6 separate regions of the Homo sapiens genome follow, and all the other regions are reported to be linked to region 5. Evidence: microRNA targets listed by miRTarBase, many of them from high-throughput screens and not tested one by one. Region 5 holds a microRNA gene; each other region holds the end of a gene's coding sequence.

Evidence for each region. The annotated mature microRNA hsa-miR-605-5p reads UAAAUCCCAUGGUGCCUUCUCCU and lies in region 5 at 1,755-1,777, opposite strand. An mRNA with a match to its seed (bases 2 to 7 or 8) in the 3' UTR can be bound and repressed. Matches are read on the target gene's strand: a 7mer-m8 pairs with bases 2 to 8, a 7mer-A1 pairs with bases 2 to 7 and ends in A, and an 8mer does both.
Region 1: miRTarBase lists FBXO21 as a target of hsa-miR-605-5p. Seed matches in the 3' UTR shown: 7mer-m8 at 1,801-1,807.
Region 2: miRTarBase lists TIGAR as a target of hsa-miR-605-5p. Seed matches in the 3' UTR shown: 7mer-m8 at 2,082-2,088.
Region 3: the mRNA of AASDH is a reported target of hsa-miR-605-5p. The part of its 3' UTR that is shown has no 7-base or 8-base seed match.
Region 4: miRTarBase lists SLC38A9 as a target of hsa-miR-605-5p. Seed matches in the 3' UTR shown: 7mer-A1 at 2,363-2,369.
Region 6: miRTarBase lists SLC25A13 as a target of hsa-miR-605-5p. Seed matches in the 3' UTR shown: 7mer-m8 at 514-520.

What each region holds. Positions count from the first base shown.
Region 1 is chr12:117,143,246-117,146,245 of GRCh38, reverse strand. FBXO21 (F-box protein 21) reads left to right here. Exons shown (of 12, transcript NM_015002.3): 12 at 1-3,000. The coding sequence ends at 159. Among named protein-coding and RNA genes, the nearest start is that of TESC-AS1, 45 kb to the right of the region's middle. RefSeq lists enhancers at 2,775-2,854, 2,255-3,000.
Region 2 is chr12:4,351,884-4,355,399 of GRCh38, forward strand. It overlaps TIGAR (TP53 induced glycolysis regulatory phosphatase), which reads left to right. Exons shown (of 6, transcript NM_020375.3): 6 at 377-3,516. The coding sequence ends at 808. Among named protein-coding and RNA genes, the nearest start is that of FGF23, 26 kb to the right of the region's middle.
Region 3 is chr4:56,335,672-56,339,187 of GRCh38, forward strand. AASDH (aminoadipate-semialdehyde dehydrogenase) reads right to left here. Exons shown (of 15, transcript NM_181806.4): 15 at 2,619-3,120. The coding sequence ends at 2,731. Among named protein-coding and RNA genes, the nearest start is that of AASDH, 50 kb to the right of the region's middle.
Region 4 is chr5:55,623,812-55,627,327 of GRCh38, forward strand. It overlaps SLC38A9 (solute carrier family 38 member 9), which reads right to left. Exons shown (of 16, transcript NM_173514.4): 16 at 2,037-2,848. The coding sequence ends at 2,683. Among named protein-coding and RNA genes, the nearest start is that of SLC38A9, 87 kb to the right of the region's middle. RefSeq lists an enhancer at 1,531-2,345.
Region 5 is chr10:51,297,849-51,301,364 of GRCh38, reverse strand. It overlaps MIR605 (microRNA 605), which reads right to left and starts at 1,792; the gene lies at 1,710-1,792. All of the region lies in intron 2 of PRKG1 (protein kinase cGMP-dependent 1), which reads right to left.
Region 6 is chr7:96,117,998-96,121,459 of GRCh38, reverse strand. It overlaps SLC25A13 (solute carrier family 25 member 13), which reads left to right. Exons shown (of 18, transcript NM_014251.3): 18 at 83-1,240. The coding sequence ends at 269. Among named protein-coding and RNA genes, the nearest start is that of MIR591, 100 kb to the left of the region's middle.

The DNA.
Region 1 (3,000 bases), not on the chromosome of region 5:
ATCTCACACCCTGACGTGGGACGCTATTTCTCAGAGTTTACTGGCACTCACTACATCCCAAACGCAGAGCTGGAGATCCGGTATCCAGAAGATCTGGAGTTTGTCTATGAAACGGTGCAGAATATTTACAGTGCAAAGAAAGAGAACATAGATGAGTAAAGTCTAGAGAGGACATTGCACCTTTGCTGCTGCTGCTATCTTCCAAGAGAACGGGACTCCGGAAGAAGACGTCTCCACGGAGCCCTCGGGACCTGCTGCACCAGGAAAGCCACTCCACCAGTAGTGCTGGTTGCCTCCTACTAAGTTTAAATACCGTGTGCTCTTCCCCAGCTGCAAAGACAATGTTGCTCTCCGCCTACACTAGTGAATTAATCTGAAAGGCACTGTGTCAGTGGCATGGCTTGTATGCTTGTCCTGTGGTGACAGTTTGTGACATTCTGTCTTCATGAGGTCTCACAGTCGACGCTCCTGTAATCATTCTTTGTATTCACTCCATTCCCCTGTCTGTCTGCATTTGTCTCAGAACATTTCCTTGGCTGGACAGATGGGGTTATGCATTTGCAATAATTTCCTTCTGATTTCTCTGTGGAACGTGTTCGGTCCCGAGTGAGGACTGTGTGTCTTTTTACCCTGAAGTTAGTTGCATATTCAGAGGTAAAGTTGTGTGCTATCTTGGCAGCATCTTAGAGATGGAGACATTAACAAGCTAATGGTAATTAGAATCATTTGAATTTATTTTTTTCTAATATGTGAAACACAGATTTCAAGTGTTTTATCTTTTTTTTTTAAATTTAAATGGGAATATAACACAGTTTTCCCTTCCATATTCCTCTCTTGAGTTTATGCACATCTCTATAAATCATTAGTTTTCTATTTTATTACATAAAATTCTTTTAGAAAATGCAAATAGTGAACTTTGTGAATGGATTTTTCCATACTCATCTACAATTCCTCCATTTTAAATGACTACTTTTATTTTTTAATTTAAAAAATCTACTTCAGTATCATGAGTAGGTCTTACATCAGTGATGGGTTCTTTTTGTAGTGAGACATACAAATCTGATGTTAATGTTTGCTCTTAGAAGTCATACTCCATGGTCTTCAAAGACCAAAAAATGAGGTTTTGCTTTTGTAATCAGGAAAAAAAAAAATTAATGAACCTTAAAAAAAAAAAAAAAGGTTTTGAAGGGAAAAAAAGTGGTTTCACACCTCTTGTTATTCCTTAGAGTCACTTCAAGGCCTGTTTGAATGTGGCAGGTTAGAAAGAGAGAGAATGTCTTTCATTTGAAGAGTGTTGGACTTGTGTGAAAGGAGATGTGCGTGTTGGAATCTGCTTTTCCAAGCCGCCAGGGTCCTGACGGCAGCAGGACGAAGCCTGTTGTGGCGTCTTCTGGGAAAGCCTGACCGTGTGTTCGGACGGCACTGGCTCCTTTCCGAAGTTCTCAGTAACTGAGCCCAGAGTAACTGCACGCCTTTGTGCAGCTCTGGAGCTCCACCAACTCTCGGCCTGCCAGTTCTCAAGCGAGCTAATCTTGTCATTAATCGATAGAAGCTAACTTCCGAAGTTAGGACCTAGTTACTTTGCTCTCAACATTTAAAATAATGCAGTTGCTCTAGTGAATGGGGCGTTAGGGGCCTGTCTCTGCACCTGTCTGTCCATCTGCATGCAGTATTCTCACCCATGTTGAATGCCTGCTGCTTGTTTACCCTTTGGAAACCCTGGGGTGACCAAGGTTTGGAAAGCCACCTGAGACCACTTCATAGCAAGGGAAGGCTTTAAGCAGTTACTAGAAAGAGATGGGGATTTGGCCCCTGGCTCCTCCAGCCTGAATGAGCTATTTAATCCACTGTCCATGTTCCTCATCAGTCAAATCCAAAGTCAAAGGATTTGAACCTGCATCTGGAAACGTAACCACTCACAGCACCTGGCCCGCCAAGGTTGGGAGGATTGTACACTACTTTCATTTAAAGGGGAAAGTTTGATAATACGGAATTAATTAATATGAATGAGATGCATTAATAAGAACCTGAGCATGCTGAGAGTTGCAATTGTTGGTTTTCTGGTTTGATTGATTTCCTTTTTTCTTAGACACATCAAAGTCAAGAAAGATGGTTTTACCTTTACTGACCCAGCTGTACATATGTATCTAGACTGTTTTTAAATGTCTTTCTTCATGAATGCTTCATGGGGCTCCAGGAAGCCTGTATCACCTGTGTAAGTTGGTATTTGGGCACTTTATATTTTTCTAAAAACGTGTTTTGGATCCTGTACTCTAATAAATCATAAGTTTCTTTTTAAAAATTTTCCAAAACTTTTCTCCATTTTAAAAAGCCCTGTTATAAACGTTGAACTTTCACAATGTTAAAATGTTAAATATTTGGATATAGCAACTTCTTTTCTCTTCAAATGAATGCCAAGATTTTTTTGTACAATGATTAATAAATGGAACTTATCCAGAGAAACCACGCAAATGGCCTGCCCAATTTCGTTTGAGGACAGAAAGCCCAGCCATGACTTGAGTAGAATGTCTCTCACCTCTCTTCGGATCTAAATATGAAAAGTATGTTCTGCTGAATTTTTCTGAGCATTGGTGAGCGGACAGCCTACCTGTAAACCATGACCTCCTTGCCAAACGTTAATTTTATCAGCTCACTAGTAACCTTTGAGAATTATCTGGTTGTCATGCAAAGATTGCACTTTCTGAATTATGTTAAAACACATGTTGTAAAATGAGAACTGCTCATGCTTTGAAAGAAAACCAGGTTCTTCGTGCGTTCTGTTGCCGTTGATTTGAATGGCTGTGCTGTATACGATGTGTCCAGAATGTCTTCAGAGCACTGTTTCCGTGTGATGTTACTACCTACTATGTGGGAGGAAAAAAGGTTATAGGTTAAACAAAGTCAATTGACTCTATGGTGGTGTTTCTCAATACCTGTGACGCACAGTACTGTGCGTCGTGACTTTCTAAGAGAAGTGTGCAGCGGGTGTGTCATCTTGAT
Region 2 (3,516 bases), not on the chromosome of region 5:
GGATTTGTTGCTGCTGTTGTTCCAGTGGCACTGAAGTGCCAGAGACAGCTTCCTGGTTAGCACTGTTTTATGAGTTTCTGTTGGCTTGTAGATTTCCCTAACTAGACCGTGAGTGCTTTGAACTCAGGAATTGGGAATTGGATCTTCTTCATCTTGGTCTCCATGGTGCTTTTGTAATTCCAGAAATGTGGTGGATACTTATATATGTCCATGAAACTACTGATTGAACGAATAGAAATGTAGATTGATATTCTTCTGCTTGTGTAGTACTTGGCATTCAATATTAGAAAAAAATCCAGTCAGTTATGTTCTATGTTAACGTTTTAAGGAAGTCATTAATGTCACTTTATTTTGACTTTTATTTCTTTTCTTGTAGGTGAAAATGCGTGGAATAGACTTTTTTGAATTTCTTTGTCAACTAATCCTGAAAGAAGCGGATCAAAAAGAACAGTTTTCCCAAGGATCTCCAAGCAACTGTCTGGAAACTTCTTTGGCAGAGATATTTCCTTTAGGAAAAAATCACAGCTCTAAAGTTAATTCAGACAGCGGTATTCCAGGATTAGCAGCCAGTGTCTTAGTTGTGAGTCACGGTGCTTACATGAGAAGTCTGTTTGATTATTTTCTGACTGACCTTAAGTGTTCCTTACCAGCCACTCTGAGCAGATCTGAACTTATGTCAGTCACTCCCAATACAGGGATGAGTCTCTTTATCATAAACTTTGAGGAAGGAAGAGAAGTTAAACCAACGGTTCAGTGTATTTGTATGAACCTACAGGATCATCTAAATGGACTGACTGAAACTCGCTAAGGTTAAATCTGCATCAAAATCTAACCATTTTGAGCCTCTGAAGGGAGTGCCATTGGCTTTATTTACTTCTCTCCTCTGCTAGTTCTGATTTGGAAACAGTTAAAAGCCAATTTTTAGCTCCAGTGGAACCATAGCCACATAAAACTTTAATGGACAACCATATAGAATTAACTTATTTTGTCCAAGTACAGTTGGCATTTTCCAGAATAATTTTACCACCCTGCTAGATGTCATCTCTGGATTGCACATGGATGATGAAGGAACTCAGCATTGAAAGTTGGGGGATTAGTAACCTTGTTACAACGGTTTCTTTTTCATTTTAGCCTATTTTAATGGCTATTGGTAAGATACTGTATGTTTTTAGTATCTCATCCAGTGCTTAGAAGAAAGAATGGTTTATAATTCCCAGTACATGTTTATATTGACTGTGTTATATTTTTAAATCCTTTAAATAAAAAATCCTTATAAGTTTATGTAAAGCAAAATAACACTAACATGTTTTACGTATAAATCAACTATTGGAATTTTTTATTCTAGAGGGCTTGAAATGTGGATGAATACAGATTATGATTGCAGAATGGTCTGGGGGAAGAAGTTAAAACATTTGATTTAAATACAGTAAAGAAAGAATCTTGGAGCAGAAGATAGAAGAACAGCCTTTTCTAAATAATGCCTTGCCAAAGTCAAGTCAATGGAAACCAGGAAAGCCAAAAAAATGAAGAATATCCACTTGCTTCTTATCTAACCTGTAGGCTGAAGAATTTCCAGTTTGAGGAAGGCTCTAAAGAAAGTAAACAGTTAACAGAACACCACACAGTAATCAGAATAAAAGAGGGGCCTTCTTTGTAAAGAATGGTGCTCTGGGCCGGGCCCAGTGGCTCACACCTGTAATCCCAGCACTTTGGGAGGCTGAGGCGGGCGGATCACAAGGTCAGGAATTCTAGACCAGCCTGGCCAACAATGGTGAAACCCTGTCTCTACTACAAATACAAAAAAGCCAGGCGTGGTAGCAGGCGCCTGTAATCCCAGCTACTTGGGAGGTTGAGGCAGGAGAATCGCTTGAACCCGGGAGGTGGAGGTTGCAGTGAGCCGAGATCGCACCACTTCACTCCAGCCTAGGTGACAGAGGGGATGACAGAGGGTGCTCTGCGGGCAGGGAAGGCGGGGTGGTTGGGGGGGAGAGAATGTTGCTCTGATAACCACAGCTGTGGTTATTTTGTGGCAGGTACAGGTGAGGTTGCCTCTTCTTTCCACCAGATGGCACTGGAGAAAAGGGATTTTGATTAACTTAATTTTATACACAAGATTGGTCTTTCAGAAATCTTTATCTAAATGAAGAAACTGTTCTACATGTAGTTCGCTTTTAAGTCACCATGTTGCTAAATGCTGTGAGTCTCAACTTTAAAGAGGGTTAATACTAAAGTTGTCAGTTAAGGCTATAGTCACATATAGTCAAAATTTACTTTGACATCATTTTAAATCATATGTAAAATTCAGTATTATATTGTTCTTAGTGTGTCTAGCACTACCAGTTTTCTACCAGTATTGAAACAGGGCACGTGTTTGAGCATCAGAGGAAGTATACTGTAAATAAAAATTTGAAAAATAAGCAAAAAGGACAGACAATAATTATCTCCATTCCCACCATACTGAAGTCATCTTTCCACTTTTTTTTTTAAAGAAACAAAACATAAAGATAAAAGTAGAGTTCTCTTTAACCAGCTCTCACAGTCCTGTTCCCTCCAGAGGCAGCCACTGCAGTGAGTCTGTGTATATGTTCACCTGTTCATCTGCTTGCAATGTTCATCTGTTCCTTATATTTTCACCTAGTGTCTGGAAGGAGATGGTACTGTTTTGGTGCTTTAAAAATAAATATCAAGCCATCTGTGTTCTTTATTTTTACTTATGTCTTGGAGGCATCTCTGTGTTGATATATATAGATCTAGTTAATTATAACCACTCTATTCTATTAAATATAGCACATTTTTGTTTATTAGTGGGCATTTAGGTATATTCAGTTTTTATTTTCTTTGCTTTTTTTCTTTTTTTTTTTTTTTGGAGACAGAGTCTCTCTCTGTTGCCCAGGCTGGGGTGCAATGGCGTGATCTTGGCTCACTGCAACCTCCACCTCTCGGGTTCAAGCAATTCTTGTGCCTCAGCCTCCTGAGTAGCTGGGACTACAGGCATGCACCACCACGCCTGGCCTTTTTTTTTTTTTTAGTAGAGACGGGGTTTCGCCATGTTGGCCAGGCTGGTCTTGAACTTCTGACCTCAGGTGATCCACCTGCCTTGGCCTTCCAAAGTGCTGGGATTGCAGGCATAAGCCACCGTGCCTGGCCTATGATGCATTTTTTTAATATGTGTTCTTAATTTTTAAGACAAACCAATATACCTTATCCTTTATGGGGTTTTTTTGGTGTGTATCTTTAAGAAGACTTCTCTACCATGAGGTCATACAGTAATGTCTTCTTACAGTTTTTGAGAACTTCTGAATGTCAAATCTTGAAATTGAAATTTGCTTTTTATAGTATAAGGTAAGAATTTAATTTTTTTTTTCATGTGGTTGAAACAGTTATCCCAACACCATTGTAAAGGCTGTTCTTTCCCAATTGGTTTGTGGTGTGTGCTCTCAGGCCTCACACCCCCTCATTTGCTAGAGTCTGTGGACTCTTTTAGTTATCTGTGTATTTCCTTATCAGTGTCATACT
Region 3 (3,516 bases), not on the chromosome of region 5:
TTAACATTTTTTCCTTCATTTCAACTTTGGTGAATCTGACAATTATGTGTCTTGGAGTTGTTCCTCTCGAGGAGTATCTTTGTGGTGTTCTCTGTATTTCCTGAATCTGAATGTTGGCCTACCTTGCTAGATTGGGGAAGTTCTCCTGGATAATATCCTGCAGAGTGTTTTCCAACTTGGTTCCATTCTCCCTGTCACTTTCAGGTACACCAATCAGACGTAGATTTTGTCTTTTCACATAGTCCCATATTTCTTGGAGGCTTTGTTCATTTCATTCTGTTTTCTCTAAACTTCCCTTCTCGCTTCATTTCATTCATTTCATCTTCCATGGCTGATACCCTTTCTTCCATTTGATTGCATCGGCTCCTGAGGCTTCTGCATTCTTCACGTAGTTCTCCAGCCTTGGCTTTCAGCTCCATCAGCTCCTTTAAGCACTTCTCTGTATTGGTTATTCTAGTTATACATTTGTCTAAATTTTTTTCAAAGTTTTTAACTTCTTTGCCTTTGGTTTGAATTTCCTCCTGTAGCTCGGAGTAGTTTGATCGTCTGAAGCCTTCTCTCAACTCGTCAAAGTCATTCTCCGTCCAGCTTTGTTCTGTTGCTGGTGAGGAACTGTGTTCCTTTGGAGGAGGAGAGGCGCTCTGCTTTTTAGAGTTTCCAGTTTTTCTGCTCTGTTTTTTCCCCATCTTTGTGGTTTTATCTACTTTTGGTCTTTGATGATGGTGATGTACAGATGAGTTTTTGGTGTGGATGTCCTTTCTGTTTGTTAGTTTTCCTTCTAACAGATAGGGCCCTCAGCTGCAGGTCTGTTGGAGTTTGCTAGAGGTCCACTCCAGACCGTTTGTCTGGGTATCAGCAGCAGTGGCTGCAGAACAGCGGATTTTCGTGAACCACGAATGCTGCTGTCTGATCGTTCCTCTGGAAGTTTTGTCTCAGAGGAGTACCTGGCCGTGTGAGGTGTCAGTCTGCCCCTAATGGGGGGTGCCTCCCAGTTAGGCTGCTCGGGGGTCAGGGATCAGGGACCCACTTGAGGCAGTCTGCCTGTTCTCAGATCATCTCTAGCTGCATGCTGGGAGAACCACTGCTCTCTTCCAAGCTGTCAGGGACATTTAAGTCTGCAGAGGTTACTGCTGTCTTTTTGTTTGTCTGTGCCCTGCCCCCAGAGGTGGCGCCTACAGAGGCAGGCAGGCAGGCCTCCTTGAGCTGTGGTGGGCTCCACCCAGTTCAAGCTTCCCGGCTGCTTTGTTTACCTAAGCAAGCCTGGGCAATGGCAGGTGCCCCTCCCCCAGCCTCACTGCCGCCTTGCAGTTTGATTTCAAACTGCTGTGCTAGCAATCAGCGAGACTCCGTGGGCGTAGTACCCTCCGAGGCAGGTGTGGGATATAATCTCCTGGTGCGCCGTTTTTTTTAAGCCCGTTGCAAAAGCGCAGTATTAGTGTGGAAGTGACCCGATTTTCCAGGTGCCGTCTGTCACCCCTTTCTTTGACTAGGAAAGGGAACTCCCTGAACCCTTGCGCTTCCCGAGTGAGGCAATGCCTCACCCTCTTCGGCTCACGCAGTGTGCTGCACCCACTGTCCTGCGCCCACTCTCTGGCACTCCCTAGTGAGATGAACCCGGTACCTCAGATGGAAATGCAGAAATCACCTGTCTTCTGCGTCACTCACGCTGGGAGCTGTAGACCGGAGCTGTTCCTATTCGGCCATCTTGGCTGCCCGCAAAAGATCAAAATTTTAAGGAAAGGGCATTGCTAGGAACAATGAATGCCTGAAATCACCATGTATAACCATGAAATTGTACTATGTGGGGGGTGTGATATATGTGTGTTTATTTTATTCTACATTAGTACTTCATTTAAAAATAACTAAGGAACATAATTCAATAACTAGATCCTGCCTTAGAAAACCTTTTGCCATGAATGACAAATTCATGTAATAAAGACTGTTTTTAACCCACCAAGTAAGTATATTCTGTTTCTCCCCCCGGCCCCCCAGCTGGGATCTTGCTTTTTTAAAGAAAAAAACATAAAATTAGCCTAATGTATTAGGGTTCTCCATAGAAACCTAGCGATTAGGAGAGATGATGTATTATGAAAATTGGCTTAAGTGATTATGATGGAGGCTGAGAAGTACCACCATCTGCCATTTGCACGCTGGAGACCCAGGAGAGTGGTCTAAAGGCTTCAGAACCAGGAGCCCTGATGTCCAAGGGCAGGAGCAGATGGATACATCTCAGCAAGAAGACAGCATTTGCCCCTCCTCTACCTTTTCATTCTATTCAGGCCCTCATCAGATTGAACGATGCCACCCACATTGGCACACTGGTGAGGGAGGACCTTCTTTACTCAGTCTACTGATTCAAATTCAAATGCTAATCATCTTTTCCAGAAACAGCCTCACAGACAAACCCAGAAATAATGTTTTACCAGCTATCAATCATCTGAGCATCCCTTAGCCAGTCAAGCTGACATATAAATAAAGTTAACCATCACACCTAATTAAACAAAAGTGCTACTAATTATATTGATGTGTTTTGTTCTCTAACTCCTTGTAAAAGCTTCTGTCGTTCCTATGGGAAGTAAAATATAGTTGTTCTCTAATCAAGTGTAGACAAGTTTCCGTTTCTTAGCCAAAATATAATCTTCTTTAATATAAAATAAGTCCACATGATGTATAATGGTAAAATATTTTCAAATATCTCACATTTGTTATACAAATAAGGACTGTATTTGATTATTTTTGATTGCCACCCAATAAATCCAGACAATAAACATAATTATCTCTACACCCAATAATGAGCATTGATTCCAGGACCACAGGAGAAGAGAAGACTTCTCCAGGAAGTTCATAAACACTTTGCAATTGTCCACTCTGAGATTCCAAGATCCACACTTTCCCATCAGTAGATGCTGCTGCCAGCAACATTTCATTGCTGCCATTGTAGTTATGGAAAGCAAACGGTGTTGCATAGACCCTTGAAGTAGTTTCAAATTTCCACTGCAGGTGACCTTTCATGTTACAACAGTAGATAAAGCAATCATGGGAACCAAAAAATATTTTTTGCTCTGATGGTGAGGTACACGGGGATGAAAAGATTGGTCCACTGGTAGAGAACTGCCAAACCTATAACAAGTAATAAAAATAAATATAATTCATTCATCTAATTGCTCCAATTCTCCCTTAAAGCTCTATGAGGTTCTTAATGCAAATCTAAGAGATATAGGCTATTTGAATGGTAACTATACACAGACAAAATGGCTTTTTCTGAAAAGTAGCACTATCATACTAGACCTCTGTCCCAGTGGTAAAATGTAAAATCTAAGACAAAATATACTGGAGTGTTGTTACTATGTGATTCACTGCCGTGCATAATAAGTAAAATTAATTTTGAACTCCATTCAAGAGTTAGTATTATTCAGAGACACTGAGTTCAAAGGTAAAACTACATTGAGTTTTCAATATTATCTTTTTTTAATTTTTATTTATTATTATTATTTTTTTTTGAGATGGAGTCTTGCT
Region 4 (3,516 bases), not on the chromosome of region 5:
CATTAAATGGACAAAAATATATTAAATCATTTTTTCCATGTGTTAAAACATTCAAGTACATTATTGAAAAGTGGCAATGAAACTCTGTCTCCACCTCTCAAAGAACTGGGATGACAGGCATGAGCCACAGTGCCCAGCCCTGTTTCTGAAGTTTTTACAGAGAAGGAAGGTGACTGGGGATAAACTGGGATTAAGCCTAGATCGCTCCCAGTGCTGTCTGGCTTTTGAATCCTATGTCTCTTAACTGAATAAGATTCTGAAGTCATAAAGATTCAGGGGCTCTCAAGCACAGAGAAGCACTTTCTCCATTCATTATACTCCTTTTCTAAGAGAAATTAACACAGTGATCTGACACCTACTGCAGAATTTTCCAATTAACCGAACTCCTACTACCAGCAATTTATGTGAACAAAAACTTTTGAGACTATTTCCATCAATGTAACTATGTTCAAAAGGCTATTACTAATAGCTGTAAATTAAGGTTTGTAGTGATGAAATAACATCTGAGATTGACAATATTTCAGTGGAAAAGAAAAAAAAAGATAGGTGAAGCAAATACAGCCAAGTTTTATAATTATTAATCTAGGGGATAGGCATTGTGAGGTTCACCGTATTACTCCATGTTACTTTTGTGTGGGCTTGAGATTTTCATAATGAGACTTTTTATTAAAACAAACGAGCTTTAGGAAATACAGTTCATCATTAATATAGGTCTATGGCTTTATGAATAGGACAGAAAGCTTTGCTGAAAGAAATTAAGGCTGATCTTGAATCTGGGCTCCTTACTAGGTTTGCAAAAACCATTTTTCTTTTTCAAAGGAAGGAAATAACACAAATCCATACACTATCTGAGAGGTGAACATACAATAGATTTTTAAACTTTAGCTTAAAATTAGAGAAATCTAATTTTTTCAGAAAAAAAAAATCACCATGTTGTATCCTGACCTGGACACAGAGGCTGTATTACTTGGAAAACGTGAATGTGGATACTAGTTTAGCTTTTAGTTCAGAAGAAATAAGGGAAGAGCGTCGATTCCAAGGATCCAGATTCCTTAATCTTTTTCTCAGATTTAAGGAGTTTTTCTCACAGGGTTTTAACTCTGTACTGTCAGAGGCATGTGAACCAGAGCAACTCCTGTCTTGAATAGCAGCTGGGTAAAATGAGGCTGAGACCTGCCAGGCTGCATTCTCAGATGGTTAAGGCATTCTAGGTCACAGGATAAGACAGGAGGTCGGCACAAGATTCAGGTCATAAAGATCTTGCTGATAAAACAGGTTGCAGTAAAGAAGCCGACTAAAACCCACCAAAACCAAGATGGCAATGAGAGTGACCTCTGGTCTTCTCACTGCTACACCCCCACCAGCGCCATGACAGTTTACAAATGCCATGGCAATGTCAGGACGTTAGCCTATATGGTCTGAAAGGGGCAGGCATGAATAATCCACCCCTTGATTAGCATATCACCAAGAAATAACCATAAAAATGGGCAGCCAGCAGCCCTCGGGGCTGCTTTGTCTATGGAGTAGCCATTCTTTTATTCCTTTACTTTCCTAATAAACTTGCTTTCACTTTACTCTGTGGACCTGCCTGGAATTCTTTCTTGCGCAAGATCCAAGAACCTTCTCTCACGGTCTGGATCAGGACCCCTTTCCTGTAACAGTACTGCCAGTTACAGAAGTAAGCAGATGGAGGTCTCTTTCTGAAGGTCATACCTCAAACAAAATCAATCCTTTTTTGTGGTGCAGAAACCAGTCCACCCCCAGAGGACACAAAATATGCTGGGCTGAGGCCTCTTCCTCCCTGGCCCCTTCTCTGTTCGCCGTCTCCCCTATGGGCCTCTCAGGCTCCTCTCTGCCATGCTTTCCCCACTGGGTCCATCATGACAGCCTACGCTGGGATCTCAGGGATCCAAAAAGCAAAAGCACCCCCTGGGTCTATGGGGACAATCATTCTTGTTCTTATGCAAAGTCTGGCTTGGGGAACTGTAATTTCGATCTAAGTCACTGGTACTGGATTAGAAATAAAAGAGGAGTTAGACAGCAACAAACTCTCCTACTTTATTTATTTTGTATACATTTCATGATCCTGGGGATTACATTGACATTACTTTTGTCTCTACTTTTTCTTCAAATAGAGATTAAGACTCAGTTAAAAATGTACTTTATTAACACTGATGCCATGAAAACTTCTTTTTAAAAATGAGGTATTTGGCTTACTGTCCCAAACAGTAGAGGTTTGGGCAAACTGCAGAAATGGTCTAGTAAGTAAGAAAATGAAAGTGAATACACTGAAACATAAAACAGAAGCAGGATTTGACAATATGCTGCTCTGACACCCTGAGAATCTTTACTGCAGGCAAAATAAATCCACCACCTTTTATCTCTAAAAGCAAAACCCAGCATGATTTCTTCCTAGGGCATACATTTCTATTCAGAAAAGACCACAGAATAAAGAGGTGAGTTAATATGAGAAAGGTAAAGACACTAAGATCATTCTTTTTGCCCCTTTCCCCACCCCAATAAAAAAATACTCATTAAGGGGCCACTATTTCCCTTGCTTTCAAATTATCTTAGAAAATATTTAGAATTACACAACAGCAGCATTTACAAGTGAATTTATATAGAACTGTTGTCAAGGCTCAAAATATCATGAGAGCTCTTGAAAAAAACAGTTGAGGTATTTCACATAAAAAACTGAACAATCAGGTTAGCCACGCCCAAAATGATGATGAAAACGTGGAAGATTAATTTAGGCCATGTCAGACGCTCTTCTTGGTGGAGGGAAATTATATAGATGAGAGATGGGTATATGAATACAAAGGCCAGTCCACATGCTGCTCCTGAATATCTGCAAAATAAAAGCTTTTGGGGTTAATATTCATCTTGCACTTTGCTTTTTACAATTAAGGTAAACATAGTACAATTTAAATCCTCCTCAGTCTGATAGCTCAACAAAAATTATTTTTGATTCATTTGTTGTTGACATAAAACATCTGGGTTTAAAACTTACTTTACTTGCTAAGTTAATATAAAATATGATTTCCTGCTCATCTTTATAGCATCTGCTTAACAAAGACTTTTTATTCATCCCTCAAATCTCTGTAGTTCCTCTGTATTTGGTGATTGTGGCTACTTCCTCAGAAACATCTGGAGCTAGGCCTCCTATCTTTGATCTTTTATAAACTAATTACTCATTCTCAGTTTTTGAGGGACCGTTAGCATCCCGGTTTAAGTATAAGAACAGATAAATGCTACCATGGCATTCAGCATGATTACGAAAGATAATAACAAAAATACTTAAACATGAGACTGTGACAGAGAAATATGCACTTTCTTCTCCTTTTCTCTATACTTGGGTTTTCTTGAGGAACAGTTCAATAGGAACTGGTAAGCCCTTTATATTCAATAAGCATCAGGCTAACAATCTCCCCTTCTTGTTCCTTGTTACTTTCTTAGGTAAGAGTGTTCCAAAAAAAATGACTCCTTCCTGCTGTCCATAGTAAGAGAAATCAGATC
Region 5 (3,516 bases):
CCTCTCATTCCCCAAACATTCCATTACTATTTTATCCCTTCTGAGCCTAGCCAGAAACTTGGCCTCCTTTGACTCCCAAACATACCAAGTTATTAAAAATACCCTTCAGCCAATATTAAGGAAGGGTCAGTAAAATGAACTCAGCATGGGGCTTAAGCAGAGCACAATGATTTCTTTGACTTAGTGAAGGAAATGAATGAGGATGATTTTGGACGGCCAGTTTCTTTCACTAATCTGTTGCTGGACTCTATCAGACATGAATGTTTCTCCCTGTCAGATTTCCTAATATTTCTCCATTGTGCTGTCACCGACATGAGAGTTAACTGGCATGAGAAGAGCTCATCTCACTCAAAAAAAAAGTCAACATTCCACAGAAAGTTATGGGACCTTCAGTTAGTATTAAGAGGAAAGTGAAATTAGAAGCTTAGCACTCACAAGATTTATACAGGAAAAGAAAGGCAGACACACTATTTTCAGGCTGCTGCTAATTAAGTCTTATTTGGATTGGAGCCTTCTGAAAGGAATCAACACATCAGGAATGGGTAAGCTAACAGGGAGGAGACAGCTGCTGAATATAATTCTGGAGAGAGCAGCCCTGCTGCTTAGATCTCAGATAACACAGAGGTTCAGTGTGTAATTGACTATGGAACAAGAAGAACATTGTTTTGTAAAAGAAGGTACCATTGCTGGGGTCCACAGAAACAGTTATGGTTCTTACCTCTGAAGGAGAACTGTGTTTAACTGTGGCTTTTAGATTTAACTTACTAAATTTGTATTTGCTGCAAAAGTAAACCACACTCAAGAGTAAAGCAAAATTCATCAGCAAGGCTATAATTTTGCAGAGAGAAATAAGAAGGGTGTATAATATTTAAATCGGAACTCAGCATCCCAGCAAAGAGCTTCTTAATCAAAACAAAAGAGAAAAAATCATTAAATACAGTAACCCACTGAGATTCACATGAAGGTATGTCCCACAACTTTCATAAATCCCGAATTTATGATACCACTATAATATACTATTACTCCACAAGAAGTAGATGTGAATAACACCCAAGGATTACTGTGTATGATACAGAAAACCAAAGAGAAGAAAAGCTGCATGGAGAGCAGCTGCTCTGACTGTGTGTGCAGTGCCTCATTCACCAACACACAATTCAAATTCAAGCCTCAGCAAAATAACTTGTCGTAAGCCATGATCCTCTATAAGGTCATCTTCAAATAGACGAAATAGTGACATTTAATTCATAAAGACAAGGTTCTACTCTCTTGCTGAGCAAGTAATCCAATCAACTGTGGTTTAGTTTCATCAACTTTGGAGAAAAGGCAATTTTCTTTCAAGATTTGACACCCTTCATACCCTCTGCCTATAATTCCAGATGGTAGGTGTAGGTGGTAGAAATGTTAGGTTGAGCAGAATGATAGTACCTAAAGAAGAATGAATAGTACCAGGAAATGCATGACTCATGGCATTCTAATTTTCTTGAAGTTCTTTTGTACATTTGCATCAAGATTTTCCACAAAATTCAATCCTGACTTTAATTGTAAATTAAAGAGTCCTTTATTGAATTTCTATTATTGCAGAGCAGTTACGCCACATGAGGTATAATAGAAGCTTATAATGTCATTGAGAGGCCAGGAAAAAACACATGTGCAGAGAGCAATATACCTGTGGCTGTCAGCCTGTAACATAGGTAACCTGTATCTGCAGTCCTAACTTGATTCTAAATCTCATAGTGCCTTCTCTGTTTTTCCCAAGGAGAAGGCACCATGGGATTTAGAACCAAGCTAGGGCTAGAGACATATGTTACAGGCTGTGAAAGTTCTACCAAAGTTCCTACTTTAAAGAATGAGCAAAAAGAGGCGGGGCATGGTGGCTCACACCTGCAATCTCAGCACTCTGGGAGGCCGAGGTGGGTGGATCACCTGAGATCAGGAGTTCAAGACCAGCCTGGCCAACATGGTGAAACCCCATCTCTACTAAAATTACAAAACTTAGCCAGGCATGGTGGAGGATGCCTGTAATCCTACCTATTCAGGAGGCTGAGGAAGGAGAATTGCTTGAACCCAGGAGGCGGAGGTTGCAGTGAGCCGAGATCGTACCACTGCACTCTAGCCTGGGTAACACAGTGAGACTCCATCTCAAAAAACATATAAAAATAAATACAGATAAAAAGAATGGGCAAAAAGAGATACTGGCTAAAGTCTTAAGCAATAAATTCATCAAAGGCAAAAAGACAGGTAAGTGTGTGTGGCTTTAAGGAACCATTAACTGAACCATTTTATTGGAGCAAAGGGCTCATTTAAAGGCATGAGTGAAAATGACAGATGGAGTAATGGTCATATTCCTTTCATTATTACACTTTAGACAACAAACCTTTGTGCTCCATTGCACTTAAATACCAGGAAAACACTTACCAAAGAACAATATTAACACATTTATGCAACCATATGATCTTTGCATACAGATCACAGCAATCAAGCTTCCAACCTTTTGTTGCATGCCTACTATGTGCCAGGAATTGTCCTAGCACTTCCCTTCCAATTCCCTATCCTATTTAATCGCTTCACATTCTACCACTCACACAAATTGTAGATTTATTTTACTCTCAGCCCACATAAAATACTCCAACCTAACAATTTTTAATTCTATCGGCATGATATTCTTTCATCCATCTAATGTTTCTACCTTAGATCAGAACCATTTCATATTTCAATTCCTACATTACCCCCTAGACTCCAGGCTTATAGTTTTATAAAATAAGATTGTAAAATAAAAACCCATCTTCTCCCTTCCTCCAGAAAAGGAGAGAAGTAAGTGTGTAATAGCTAACATTTATAATGATTTTACTATGCTGAGTGCTTTCTACATAAAGCTGTTTCATTTAATGGCTCAGCAACACTGTTGAAAAAGGAAGAACCTGGAGTATGGAAAGACTGAACAACTCCCACCAGGTTCATGTAATCAGTAATTGGTGGAGCTGGAATTTTTAATCAGGTCCAACTCAGAACCTAAATCTTTTAAGATCACAAGCTTAGTCATAATATTCAATTCAGTGCCTTTTCTTTGCCTATAAAATAAACCACATTTTTTGAAGTAGTGGCAATGTAACTCTTGAATTAGATTGTGTGGGTTCAGATTTCAAATGTATCATTTGCCACCTGTGCAAATTTGGACATCATAATTAATATCCCTAATCATGAATTTATCATCTATAAAATGGATAATATTAGTTTCTTTACACACCATTGTTATAAGGTTAGGAGATAATTCATGTAAAATGTATACAGGGCCTAATATAGTAAGTGCTTAACAAGAACTGATGAAGGAATAATGGTTAGGTACATAAATGAATGAGTGAATGAATTTCCTTTACATACATCTCTTTATATAAATATATCACTTATAGTAACAAGTGTAGGTAAGGACACCTACTCTATCCCTCATTGTTAGGGTTAAGAACTGCTTGCATTATTTTTTAGGAAAAGCCATTAAATGCCTTATACTAAAGAGAAAAT
Region 6 (3,462 bases), not on the chromosome of region 5:
TTGAACAGGTTTTGAATGTTATTTTTATCAAGTTAAAACAAACAAAAAATACAGCTTCTTACTCTGTTTTCTCTTCTTTTAGAAAACCCATGGGATCAGAGCCAGTTCCTAAATCCAGGATCAACCTGCCTGCCCCGAATCCTGATCACGTTGGGGGCTACAAACTGGCAGTTGCTACATTTGCAGGGATTGAAAACAAATTTGGACTTTACCTACCTCTCTTCAAGCCATCAGTATCTACCTCAAAGGCTATTGGTGGAGGCCCATAGGAAGATCAGCCCTGGGATAGTGCTGTCTTTTTGTGGGTACTGCAGTAAAGAACATCCCTCCTGGGAATGAAGCAATGCTTCATCCCTTTTACGTCCATCTCTTGTTTAAATTCAAGTCCAGGCTTTTTTATCATGTGAAATCATTCATTTTCTGGGTGTTTTCTTAACCAGATCATTGTGAAATTATTCATAATTATTATTTGGCCCTCTGCCCAGAAACCTTTGTTTGCATCTGAAAATTGATGGGATTTGGTCAACACTAACATGATTTGGGGAAAGGAGCAAGTCAGAATAGAAATTAGTACTCCCCTCCTTGAACTAGGATTGTAGTCCCAAAGAGGCTACTGTAAGGCAATCATGGTGCTCAGAGCAGTGTTTCGTGTGTGTTTTAAACTGGTAGGAAACTAGGTGCATATTTATAAAAATAAAAAACACTGGGAGAAATGAAAAAATATATATCAAATATATTCAGCCTGGCTTCAAATTGTAAGCATGCACAAATTCTGTCTCTGGATTATATTATGAAGCTTTTATGTGAAACATGTTTCTTTGTAATGAAAACCACATTGGAGATGTTTAGTAATCATATTGTTACTGGTACCAAGACTACTAGGGAAATGCCTTTGTACTTTAGGGAAGTACTTTTGGCATTTTACTGTACAGACAGAAAAAACTGAGATGTAGCCCCTCTCCTGGAAGTGCTAATTTTGAAAAACTGCTCATATGATGTACATGTACTGATTACTGCCTATTTTAATAAACACTCTTGAAAAATGCATGTTGCCCTGTTGCTGCCTGCCCTATTCTCCTCATCTCCCCATCATTGGTACCCACTTGCTTTTAAAATCCACTTTATCTTGAATAATGTAAGACAAATATGTTCTGACATAAGTATTTAATTCATGTTGCCTTGCATAATGGTCAGAGGCGCATGAATTTGTGAAGGTGGAAATAAACTATTTGTAAAGTGATTGAGTTGTTTGGTCTTGTGCATGTTGCATGGTGAGTGGATACAGTAATTGTCATTATTGGCCTACATGTTTTGTTTTGAGGGGAATTTTATTCATATTGGCATGGATATATCCTCAGTATCTTTCAAGGTAATGTGTTCCCTCATTTTCATGGTTCAAAGTGAGTACAAGAAACTGTATTTAACCATAGATAAGCAAAGAACTAGCAAACTGACACCTTAGTTCTAGTCATTCCAGCACTTTCGGCAGTTTATTGTGATGATGAAGGTCACATAGTTTTAGTAGAACTTAGCCATGAAAACTGGTATGAAATGGCAGTCGTATTTTCTAATCCAGTCTGACTCTTGCACACACCAAAACCATATACCACTGTATCTAACATTTGCTATTATTTGGCTAGCACTATAATGATTTGGGGAAAGAAGCTAGTCTTGAACAGGATTTAAGGCTATTCTTAGACCGTGATCATGCTTCCAAAGAGGCTACTAATTAATCTGTTGGCAGTCTGTATGAACATTTTGAGTTTCCAAAGTTTTTCTCCATAGCAGACAGCCATTTGTCAGTCTGTTTCTGTAAGTCAACAGGCTGACATTTGAAGTTACAGTTTAAAATTGGCAAGAGTCAATACCCGCCATAAATGGCTGATTTTTTAGAGGGGGAGGGTCAGGAGGGGAGTGAAGAGCTTTGTCTTCTTCACTAGAAACAGGACAGATAACATACATGGCTCCTTCTGTGATTATTTGACAAAACCAAAGGGGAATCCCCTCCCCAAATTCAGTGTGATAAGTGATAAATATCTGTATTATAATCTCAGAGACTAGTCACAGAACTCCAAATATGTGTTAGAAATGTGGTTGGTGTTAGAACAAAACATGCCAACTTTGGTCTTTTGAATGTGGAGAAAAGGCCCTGCATCTCTGCATTCCTTTTCTTCACTTGTTTGAGATTTTATGGCAGATCAAGTTTTCTTGGTAAAAACACTGACCAAAAATCTCATAACTTGTCCATGGCCCTGCCTGCCTCTTAAAGAGCAGTTGCATTTAATGAGAGAGCACCCTGTCTTCATTTAGCCTTGTCAGTCACTGAGAACAATTCTCTTTAGTGAATAAGAAGCCAGGGGCCCCAGGAAGCCAATGGAGGTAGGGCCACATGTCTGTGTGTCCTTAAAATCCTTGCCTTATTCTGTTCAGGGATAGGCAGTAATGGGAGACTTTGAAGGAGGCCTAATTTCCCTCTGGGTTCTGCTCAGTGGGTGGTGTTACTGTGACATGCCCTGAACAGGACTGCAATCACCGTGTGGTGAAAACCACTGTAAAATTCGCTCTGGGTTTCCCTTCTTTCTGGTGACAGCACAATCCGTTGTCGTCGTCAGTGGTGTGGCTGTTGTTGGTGCCGTGGGTCGTTTCCCTCTGTAGGGCTGAGGAACTGAAGCTGGTAACTCCCACATGCCTGCCTGCTTGCCTGCCTACGTGAGGGGGCCAGCCTCCTCTGCTCTGCCTGCCCCGAGTCTCCACTCTGCTCCTGGTCCACCACGTGATTCCTTGGGGGTTGGGAGAGAGGTCTGATTTTCATAGCAGCTTTTTTTTTTTTTCAAGGAGGGGAAAAATGTGAAGCTGACCACAAAGTGAACACACTGATTCTTGGGTTCCAGTCATGGCTGGGTTTCTTGAGGCTGGGTGGCATGCTGTCGCCAAGCTCCTGCTACACCTCGTAACCCACAACCATTTGCTGAGCTCCCTGGGGTTGCCTTAATCCCAGAAGCCAGGGTCGCACAGAGGAAAATAAGAATTCTGGCACAGAAAGGAGTCATTTAAGTGCTTATTGCATTTCAAGCTTTAGTTTCTACTTAGCTAAAATATTTACCATTGCTGGAAAACAATGTTTAAAATGTTGTGCTTATATGTTATTTAATGGCGTGGCCTATGTAAACCTCAGGATGCTTACATTTTGACAGTCTTCTGGAAATGTCTAACAGCACATAACCCAGCGAGTGGGGAATCAAAACGGGAACAAATGGCGCTTGAAACTGTTTGTAACCTCCTCCAACTAGGTATTCAGAATGCAAGTCATGCTGGAATGCTTCAGGTAGAGGGAGATCTCAAAAAAGAAATTTGATGAGTCCTGTCTTATGGCCCCATTTATCAACCTTCCAAATAAACTGTCCCTAAAAGTCATCATGTGCCTTTTACCGCAGAAGGCATACTTGTGGGGATGAATTTGTA